Linked DNA regions of Homo sapiens. The protein of the gene in region 2 purifies or fractionates together with the protein of the main gene of each other region. This does not show direct contact. Each region holds a gene or a part of one and is shown on either strand. Other genes may lie near its edges.

The links. The genes of interacting proteins can lie anywhere in the genome.
Region 1: the proteins of NEK9 (region 2) and COX6B1 purify together in Homo sapiens (co-immunoprecipitation; one large-scale study listed by IntAct). This does not show direct contact.

What each region holds. Positions count from the first base shown.
Region 1 is NC_000019.10:35,654,725-35,659,620, forward strand, and holds the end of COX6B1 (cytochrome c oxidase subunit 6B1), read left to right. Parts: intron 1-3,869; coding exon 3,870-3,923; 3' UTR 3,924-4,058; downstream 4,059-4,896. UniProt on the Homo sapiens protein: Component of the cytochrome c oxidase, the last enzyme in the mitochondrial electron transport chain which drives oxidative phosphorylation.
Region 2 is NC_000014.9:75,082,042-75,087,810, forward strand, and holds part of NEK9 (serine/threonine-protein kinase Nek9), read right to left. Parts: intron 5,190-5,769; coding exon 4,977-5,189; intron 2,646-4,976; coding exon 2,523-2,645; 3' UTR 1-2,522.

The DNA of each region.
Region 1 (4,896 bases), on a different chromosome or scaffold from region 2:
GGGAGTGTGGTGGCTTGGTGGGAGCTCATCTGTGAGGGGCAGAGGGAGGACAGGGCACCACACTGTCCCAGGACTCAGTGCCTTTCCTCCCGCCTAGAATTACCTCCCTGTCTCCTTCTGCTGATGCCTCTCAACCAGTCAGGGCTCTCAGCTGAGGCGACCAGGGTGCTTTGCTAGATGTAGCTCACTCATGCACTCTCCAAATACACACTCAGCACTGGGCTCCCATCCCTGTGTAGCTCACAATTCTGTGCAGTCCTGTCCTTTTTTATTAGGAACATTTTTTTTTCTTTTTTTTTTTCTTTTTTTTTTTTTAGACAAGGGTCTTGCTGTGTTGCCAGGCTGGAAAGGCTGGAGTGCAGTGGCGCGATCTTGCCTCACTGCAACCTCCGCCTCCTGGGTTCAAGCGATTCCCCTGCCTCAGCCTTCCAAGTAGCTGGGACTACAGGTGTGCACCACCATGCCCAGCTAGTTTTTTGTATTTTAATAGAAACGGGGTTTCACCATGTTAGCCAGGATAGTCTCAATCTCCTGACTTCATGGTCCACCTGCCTCGGCCTCCCAGAGTGCTGGGATTACAGGCGTGAACCACCGTGCCCGGCCCTATTATGAACATTTTCAAAGCAGAGATAATAATTCATTGACCTCAAATACATCCATCACCCAAAGTGAATAGTTATCAGGATTTATCCACGGTTTCTTCATCTACCCCTTTTCGTTTTCTTCTTTCCTTTGCTGAAGTATTCTAAAGCAAGTCCCAGACACGTCATTTCACCCCTGCCTACTTCAGTGTGGACTTCTAAATAATGACACAGTAAGACAGTCCTTTCAGCCCTGATCTGACCAAATCTGTCGTCAATATTTAATAGCTCTTTGCTATGCCCCTGCCCTTTGTTTAAAAAAAAAAAAAAGTTTTTAAAGACAAGGTCTCATGATGTTGCCCAGGCTAGACTCGAACTCCTGGGCTCAAGTGTTCCTCCTGTCTCAGCCTCCTGAGTAGCTTGGACTACAGGCATGTGCCACTGTGCCTGTCTCTCTCTCTCTCTCTCTCTCTCTCTCTCTCTTTGTCGCCCTCTCGCTCTCTCTTGCTCTCTTTCTCTCTCGCTCTCTCTTTCTCACTCTTTCTCTCTTTCTTTCCTTTCTTTCTTTTCTTTCTTGAGCCTTGCTCTGTTGCCCAGACTGGAGTGCAGTAGCATGATCTCAGCTCACTGCAGCCTCAGCCTCCTGAATAGCTGGGACTACAGGCATGAGCCACCACACCTGGCCCAATTTTTGTATTTTTTTTGTAGAAATGGGGTTTCGCCTTGTTGCCCAGACTGGTCTCGAACTCCTGAGCTCAAAGCAGTCTGCCTGCCTCAGCCTCCCAAAGCGCTGGGATTATAGGCATGAGCTACCGCACCCAGCTGAATCTTTCAAAATAAAAAAAATTACCCTTTAACTTGGCAATTCCACATCTAGGGATGCTACAAAAATCTTCATGTACAAAGATGCCCATTGCAGAGTTGTTCGTAATGGAGAATATTTGGAAATAACCCAAGTTAAAACATTGATCTTGATAGTCTTTATGGAGACTATGGTGATCTACATGCTAGCACACAGAAAGAATGCTAAGACACAGGAAAAGTAAGTTGCAGAACAATCTATATAGTAGGAGTCAATTTGCAAGGATGGAGTTTTTATGGTGTGGTATGTGTATGTAAATAAAGTAGGCACATACCGCTGGCACTTATTATGGGCCAGCTATGTTGTTAGACCTTTTTTTTTTTTTTTTTTTGAGATGGAGTCTTGCTCTGTCTCCCAGGCTGGAGTGCAGTGGTGCAATCTCAGCTCACTGCAACCTCCGCCTTCCAGGTTCAGGCGATTCCCCTGCCTCAGCCTCCCGAGTGTCTGGGATTACAGGCGCCTGCCACCATGCCCAGCTGATTTTTGTATTTTTAGTAGAGACAGAGTTTCACCATGTTGGCCAGGCTGGTCTCAAACTCCTGACCTCAGGTGATGCACCTGCTTCGGCCTCCCAAAGTTCTGGGATTACCGGCGTGAGCCACCACGCCCAGCCATGTTAGCACTTTACATCACATAAGGTCAACATGCTAACACAACCGTATGAGGTAGGTACTATTGTTAGTATCCTCATTTTACAAAATTGGAAACTGAGGCCCAGAAAGGTTGAGTAACTTGCCCAAAGTCACACAGCTAGGAAGTGATGGAGCAGGGATTCAGATTCAGCCTCTCTGTTATCCATGCTTTCATCCACTGTTCGTTCTTGCACCAGTGGTCCTCACCCTTTTTGGCACCAGGGATGAGCTTCATGGAAGACAGTTTTTCCACAGACAGGGTTGGGGATGGTGTAAGGATGAGTCCAGCATATTACATTTATTGTCCACTTTATTTCTGTTATTATTACATTATATAATAAAATAATTATACAACTCACCATACTATAGAATCAGTGGGAGCCCTGAGCTTGTTTTCCTGCAACTAGATGGTCCCATCTGGGGGTGATGGGAGATAGTGACAGATCATCAGGCATTAGATTCTCATAAGGATCATGCAGCCTAGATCCCTCACATGCGCAGTTCACAATAGGGTTCGCACTCCTAAGAGAATCTAATGCTGCCGCTGATCTGACAGGAGGTGGAACTCAGGCAGTAATGCGAGCATTAGGGAGTGCTTGTAAATATAGTTGAAGCTTGTCTCGCTCACCTGCCACTCACTTCCAGCTGTGGGGCCCAGTTCCTAACAGGCCACAGACCAGTACCTGGTAGGCACTGGTTGGGGCTCGGGGACCCCTGCCTTATAGCATAAAATGTGAGCGTGTATGTATATAAAAACGTTTATGCTTGTAACTGCTTGTGAGGTCCACAAAGAGTAGAGTGTTACTTTCAGGGAGTGTTAACTTGACATAGGCCTTATATGGGCCTTTTCATTTTTTTTTTTTTTTTTTTTTTAGAGACAGTCTTGCTCTGTCAGGCTGGAGTGCGGTGTGCAGTGGTAGCATCATAGCTCACTGCAGCCTCGAACTCCTGGGTTCAAGCAGTTCTCCCACCTCAGCCTCCCTAGTAGCTGTGACTACAGGTGCATGCCACCATGCCTGGCTAAGTTTTGTATTTTTTGTAGAGACAGGGTTTTGCCACATTCACCAGGCTGGTCTCAAACTCCTGGGCTCAAGCGATCCTCCCACCTTTGCCTCCCAAAGTGCTGGAATTATAGGCGTGAGCCACCATGCCCGGCTTATTTTTTATTTTTTGTAGAGATGGGGGTCTTGCCGTGTTGTCCAGGTTGGTCTCAAACTCCTGAGCTCAAGCAGTCCTCCCACATCGGCCCCGCAAAGTGCTGGGATGACAGGTGCGAGTCACCACACCCAGCCTCCATCATTGTTTATACTGAGCATCGCCTGTGGTCAGTGGTGGGATTGCACTGTGTATTGTTTGGCACCTTTTTTGCACTTGACTATGTATCTTGAAGATCCATCCATTCATGCCAGAACATAAATCAGCCTCGTTTTTTTTCACAGCTGCCTGCTATTCCATCTCCCCTGTTTGGACAAACAGCATAGTGTTGACTTGAGGTTTTCAAAGCAGGGCCCACCCTTGGAGCTCTGTACAGTGACACATCTCCCCATCGACAGCTCTGCAGTGGGCCTGGGGTTTTCCTGCCCATTACTCTCCTCCCAGCATGTCAGCTTGTTCAGAACAGTGATTTCTGTCTTTTGGGGTCACTGCTGATTCCCCGGCCTCTAGAATAGAGGTTGGCACACAGCAGGTACCTGTGGATATTGGTTGAACAAACAGGTGGGCAAAGTGAGGAAGATAAGAAGTCCATCCGTTCAGTTTCCCCACTGCGGAGGGAATAACACTGTCTTTCCACAGGTCACAGACTGGGATGAGCAACGGGCTGAAGGCACGTTTCCCGGGAAGATCTGAACTGGCTGCATCTCCCTTTCCTCTGTCCTCCATCCTTCTCCCAGGATGGTGAAGGGGGACCTGGTACCCAGTGATCCCCACCCCAGGATCCTAAATCATGACTTACCTGCTAATAAAAACTCATTGGAAAAGTGAGACTATGCGTGTGAACGGGCCAGGCAGTGGCAAGAAGCTGGGCTGGAATCAGTGCCCTGACCAGGGAGGGGCTTGAATGAGTATTTTCTCTGTTTTGTTTTTATTTATTTAATTTAATTTAATTTTTTTTTTTTTTATGATGGAGTCTCGTTCTTCACGCAGGCTGGAGTGCAATGGCACGATCTCTGCTCACTGCAACCTCCACCTCCAGTGTTCAAGCGATTCTCCTGCCTCAGCCTCCCGACTAGCTGGGACTACAGGCACACCCCACCACACCTGGCTAATTTTTGTATTTTTAGTAGAGATGGGGTTTTACCATGTCGGCCAGGCTGGTCTCAAACTCCTGACCTCAGATGATCCACCTGCCTCGGCCTCCCAAAGTGCTGGGATTACAGGCATGAGCCACCATGCCTAGCGTTTTTTAACTTAATTTTATTGAACCTTGGCCACCCTCTCTGTGCCAGTCAATGAGTCAAATAGTTGATTATACAGAATAACCTAAGTTCCTATGTGTGCAACCACCCTACATAATTTTAAAGCAAATTATATAGATTATAATATAATATAAAATACATAAAGATTATATTTTATCCAGAAATAAGAAACTATATGTATCTCTTGGAGATACAATTTTTTTTTTTTTTTTTTTGAGACAGAGTCTCAATCTGTTGCCCAGGCTGGAGTGCAGTGGTGTCATCTCAGCTCTCTGCAACCTCTGCCTTCTGGGTTCAAACTATTCTCCTGCCTGGAGATACCTATTTTTTTAACATAATTATTTACACCTAAGAAATTAGTTCTTAATGGCCGGGCACAGTGGCTCATGCCTGTAATCCCAGCA
Region 2 (5,769 bases):
TTCACGGAGGCTTAGAATCTGGATGTTTTATCCCCAGAGACTAAGGTCCATGCACAGGCTTACTGAAGCACAGTACTGATTAAGAGCTTAAATGTTTATTTAAAACAGAAATGCCAAACCACTCCACTCTCAACCTTTCAAGCAACCTGGCTAACAATAAACTAGTTCTTCTGCAACAATGTTAGAGCAGAGGAGTAACTCAGGTTATACTGTAACTCAAAAGCAATACTACTAGAAAACTTAAAACACCTAGCACTGCATAAAGAAAAAAAGCAGGACAAAATTTAAAGAGAATTAGCTACAGAAAACCATTCAAAGGCATTTCTACTGCCTCATCTTTTACTCCATCCCCCTTTGAACTGGTTTCTGTTTGCATACTTGTTTGGTGGGAAAAAAAATCATATGGCTGTCCCAGGCACAATATGGGAAAGTGCAAACTGTCTCTAAGGCACAGAACTTAGATTCTCAGCCAGATTAATAGCAAATCTAGACTTCCCAAGGGAATATGCTAGAGAAAATGACCACAGCGTTCCACTGCTAGGGAAAGGCTCCCCTATGAACAAGACCAGGGCACTCACCCACCCCCGGCACTCACTTTCACCCCACCTTCTCAGCAACCTGCCCATGTCCATCAGCTCCATGGCAGAAGCAATCCTCATGATGAACACCCAAACTGACCCAGCCTCTCAGGCCTGCTGAGATGATGAGCATGAGGATACAGGGACATGACAGGTCAATCGGTCCTCAAGAAAATCAAAGTTGCATTTACATGCTGAACCAAAACCCACTGTTACAGTTTATGACAACCCCCGCAAGTCCCCAGAACTTGCAACTTTAATCAAAGTTTGGCTGCTTCCCTTATTTCAAGAAAAGGTTTCAGTGATTACATTAGTACTAATGTACTAGGCTTCCCAGAACTGAGAAAACAATGGGAACATCAAACCAAAGAAGATCCCATTGAACAGAGTTGCCTGTCCCGAGCAATGGGGTTCTCCCCAAGCATCAGCCTTTATGCCACCAGTTTTGGAGAAATGGCAAAATTTCCATTGCACAAGACCTCCCACAATGTTGATAAGATTATCAAACATTTTGGTCTGGGGAAGATGAAACAAAATTAATTTAGCTGTTTATAGGAAGGTGGGATGTGAGACTCATCAAAGGTAGGATGTGTGACACAAAATACCACAGGAACATTTTACAAGGCTAGGTGGAAATACAAAGCTCACATCCTTAAGGAAACCATCAAATACTTGCCTAGAACTTTCTATATGAAGTTTTGTTCTTCTATGACACTATTTCTCTTTGGTAAAGCTAGCTTGTTTCTATCTACAAAGACACAGTGAGTACAGGATTAGAAGTGAGCTCTCAGCCAAATTCCTTTTGCAAGTTCTACCTGTTCTGTTAGGCTTCAGGGACTCCCAGGGTTTGGTGCTGGCTTTGGGCCACTCAGGTAGGAAAAATGATACAGATTCATTCGTTACCACATGGCTTCATAAAACACCAAAAGGGGAAAAATACTGACTAGACATTCAGAAAGAAAGTGGTTGGGGCTGCTGATATCAAGATCAGAACCCTAAGAGCCATGAAGGCAGAGGCTCAAAGAAGTCTTTTCATGGGCAGAAGACTGAGAGCCCTCTAAGCCCTCTCTAAGATACCAAGTAGAGGCAGCTAAAGGAGGACCTCTTCTCCTTCATGATTTTCTCTTAAGGCTATTCTGACTGCCCCATGGACTCAATTCTCTGAGACACCTCATCCCTCAGAGACACCTCATCCCCTCATCCACAGTTAGGAAATCCCACCCTGCATTGGTCACAGCCTGAAACACCAGCTGTGTGATGAGGAGGGTCCTGCCCTTTCTCTATTCCTCACTGAAGAAATTTCAATCAACCCTCAGAGGAAAAGCAACCTAAGCCTACCTTTCCTCCTAAAGCATTTAGCTGCACAGAGTAACTGAACTTTTTCGAAACAAGCCCTAGATTGACTCCATCAGACATATTTTCCTGGACTCAGGGCTCCCAAGAGGGCCAGACTACTTCACCACTCTGCAGAGGACACTGGGCGGGCCACACCTGATTCCAGCCCACTCCAACTTTACACTTCTCCCTCTCCCACCCAGAGGGGTAATGCCTGGTACTGAATTCCCAAGGCAGCTTCCAATCAATGGTGAAAATGATACATGGGATATAAGCTGCTACCAGCGCAATTAAGGTGAGCACTGTGTCTCCTCTTCAAAGGTGGGATCAACAGATGAGGTACAGAGCTGCTGTTGCTATGGCAGTCACTGATGACAAAGCCAGGGCCATGGGGGCCCTTCCATTCTCCAAAACAATAAAATCACTCCTAGATCCTATCTAAAAGGCAATGCCACTCTCCAAATGTACAAGGAAAGTGCTTCAGAGCCTCTGCCTTGCGCTCCTTTTCTGCAAGTGAACAAAGCCAGGAAAGCTGCTCTCTGCATTCGGTAAGTGTGCTGTGAAGTTCTTTGGGTCCCAGTCTCCTGGGGGCTCTACAGGCTCAGGAGACTAGAGGCTGGGTCTACAGGAGTCTGTTCCCAGGAGGCACCAGGAATCTGAATCTAAGTCAGGCTTTGGATCCATTTCCATCTCTTCCTTTGCTGTCTGAGTTCCTTTGGAATGCATCCCCACCTGTCCGGATAAAACACGGTTCCACATTAGCAACAGTGCCACCTAGTCACAGAAGTAGTTCAGTACTATATTTTCAATGCCAACTTCTAAGGCATTGGCTAAGGCGTGGCTAAGGATTTGTAGCCACGATCTTGTGAGACGCTCATGGCACTATTTTAGATACAGTCCATACCTTTATATTTACTGCAGGTAGGGTGACCAACTATCCAGGTTTGTCCAGGACTGCGGGGTTTCCTGGGATGCAGAACTCTTAGTTTTAAAATGGAAAAAGTCCTGGGCAAAACAATCTTCTCCCTGCTATAGCTGCCAATCTTACCTTGTGTGTGTGTGTGTTTTTGAGACAGGGTCTTGCTCTGTTGCTTACGCCGAAGTGCAGTGGTGTGATCACGGATCACTGCAGCCTTGACCTCCCCAGATTCAGGTGATCTTCCCACCTCAGCCTCCTGAATAACTGGGACTATAGGCGTGTGCCATCATGCCCAGTTAGTTTTTATTTTTGGTAGAGATGGGGTTTCACCAGGTTGCCCAGGCTGGTCTTGAACTCCTGGGCTCAAGCAATCTCCCAAAGTGCTGGGATTACAGGTGTGAGCCACCGTGCTCAGCCTGTATATTATTTTCTAAAGTAATTTCATAAACATTAGTTCATTTAATCCTCCAAAGAACCATACAAGGTGTCTATTATTTTCTTTCAGGTGAGAAACCAGGGCTCAGAGAAAACAAAGTAGCCCAAACACCTACAGCTGGCAAATGGCAAAGCCAAGGGCCTAACCCTATTTCTCTGCTTCTACTTCCCTCTATATAAAACAATAGCATGGCTCTCGAAAAATAATGCAAGCAGCATCACCTTTGAAGTATTTTCACTAAAAATGTTTAATGTGAATCTAATCAAGCCTTAGGTTAAACTTCCAGTTTTCAGAAAAGACAGGGTGACAGAAAAACAAGTTAGACAACACCCTGAGAAAACAAGACAAATCTAGAATGTGGGACATTCTGTTGAACAACTGCCCTGGTTTCTTCAACAAGTCAATGTCATAAAAGTATTTTTTTAAAAGGTGAAGCAGAGCATGGTGGAACATGCCTGTAGTTCCAGCTACTTGGGGGGCTGAGGTCAGAGAATCACTTGAGCTTAGGAAGTCAAGGCTGCAGTGATCCATGTTTGTGCCACTGCACTCCAGCCTTGGTGACAATGCAAGACCCTGTCTCAAAATAAATACATAAATAAGGCCTGGCGCAGTGGCTCACACCTGTAATCCTAGCACTCTGGGAGGCCGAGGCAGGTGGATCACGAGGTCAGGAGTTTGACACCAGCCTGGCCAATATGGTGAAATCCCATCTCTACTAAAAATACAAAAATTGGCTGGGCATGGTGGTAAGCGTCTATAGTCCCAGCTACTCGGGAGGCTGAGGCAGAAGAATCACTTGAACCCGGGCGGTGGAGGTTGCAGTAAGCCGAGATCACGCCACTGCACTCCAGCCTGGGCAACAGAGTGAGACTGTCTCAAAAAATAAAAATAAAAATAAAAATAAAAATAAAAATAAAATAATTTAAAAAAGGTGATGGTGGTGGAGGGAGCTGTTTTAGATGAAAAGAAATGAGACATACATATAATGTGGGATTCTTGACTGGATTCTAGTCTGATAAAAAATGGTTATAAAGGACATTTTTGTGGGGGAAAACTGGGAAAATTGAGGTATCAGCTGGATACTAGATGAGAATTGACAATACTAGTATTAATTTTTTTAGGTGTGGTTATAGTATTGTGGTTGTTCAGGAGAATGTCTATTTTCAGAGGTATGTAATTAAGTATTGTAAAAGAAAAAACATACACTAAGAAAAAGCAATGCAAGTGATGAAAATGATTCAATCTAGGTGCCTGAACAAGGCCCAAGGCTTCTGGGATTATAATTACAAAAATGGTATCATTAAAAACTAAGGATCGGCCAGGCGTGGTGGCTCACACCTGTAATCCCAGCACTTTGGGAGGCTGAGGCGGGTGGATCATGAAGTCAAGTGATCGAGACCATCCTGGCCAACACGGTGAAACCCTGTCTCTACTAAAAATACCAAAATTAGCCGGGCATGGTGGTGCACACCTGTAGTCCCAGCTACTCGGGAGGCTGAGGCAGGAGAATTGCTTGAATCCGGGAGGCGGAGGTTGCAGTAAGCCAAGATAGCACCACTGCACTCTGGCCTGGCAACAGAGCGAGACTCCGTCTCAAAAAAAAAGTAAGGACCTGCAAAGGAACAAGTCTATTTCAGTACTTTGTGTTTTGTTTCTGTGATTCTTCAAAACAGGCTTAGAAATTGGATTATTCTTTTAATGCTCTCACCTGCTGCCCTCCTTCTAATTTCTTGTTCAACTTCTGCAGTTGGGTAAAAATCTGGAGGTTTTCTTGCTGTAGCTTCTGTTGTTCAGCCAGACACTTTAACACCAGACCCTGCAATCTCTCAACCTCCACCTGCAGAGAGCTGCACGCACACGCAGGAGGAGTCAGTGGTGTTCCCTTCCCAGCACAGGTTACTGCAGGATTCAGCCGAGGTGACTAGAGAGACAAGAAGGAGATTGCAGGAGGTTCTGCCCAGGTGTCATAGCTCCTCAATCCAAACTTCCTCTAAGTGCAATCGGATTTTACTTTTAAATTAACAAGATAAATCATATATACACATGAATATATGTACGAGAAACAGAAATGCTAGGATTATAACAGCGATGGGCACTGACATAACATGGAAAGTGAACTCTCTGCCTCAGTCCCCATTAGGCCAAGGTGGGAGACCAATCATCTATTTTGGAGGACTTTGTGAAAAATTTTAAAGCACCTTGGTATCTTCTCATTTAAAATGCTGAAGTAGGGAAAAGCATGATTTGGTTTGGAACAAGTCTTTCAGATCACAGACCCAAAGGGTCAATATTCATGATATGCAGTGAATCACACTTTAGAAAAGATCTGAGAGGTGGTCAGTAAACAGGACCACCAACACAATTTAAGAAGGTGAACTGACAGAGAAATTAAAACATTCACCTTGAAGTTTCAAAGGTATTATTACCTCTTCTGGGAAGCTTTCTGATGATCCTAGTCTGGATTTTTCTCTTTTCTACTGTACTTTTTTTATAGGAGGGTT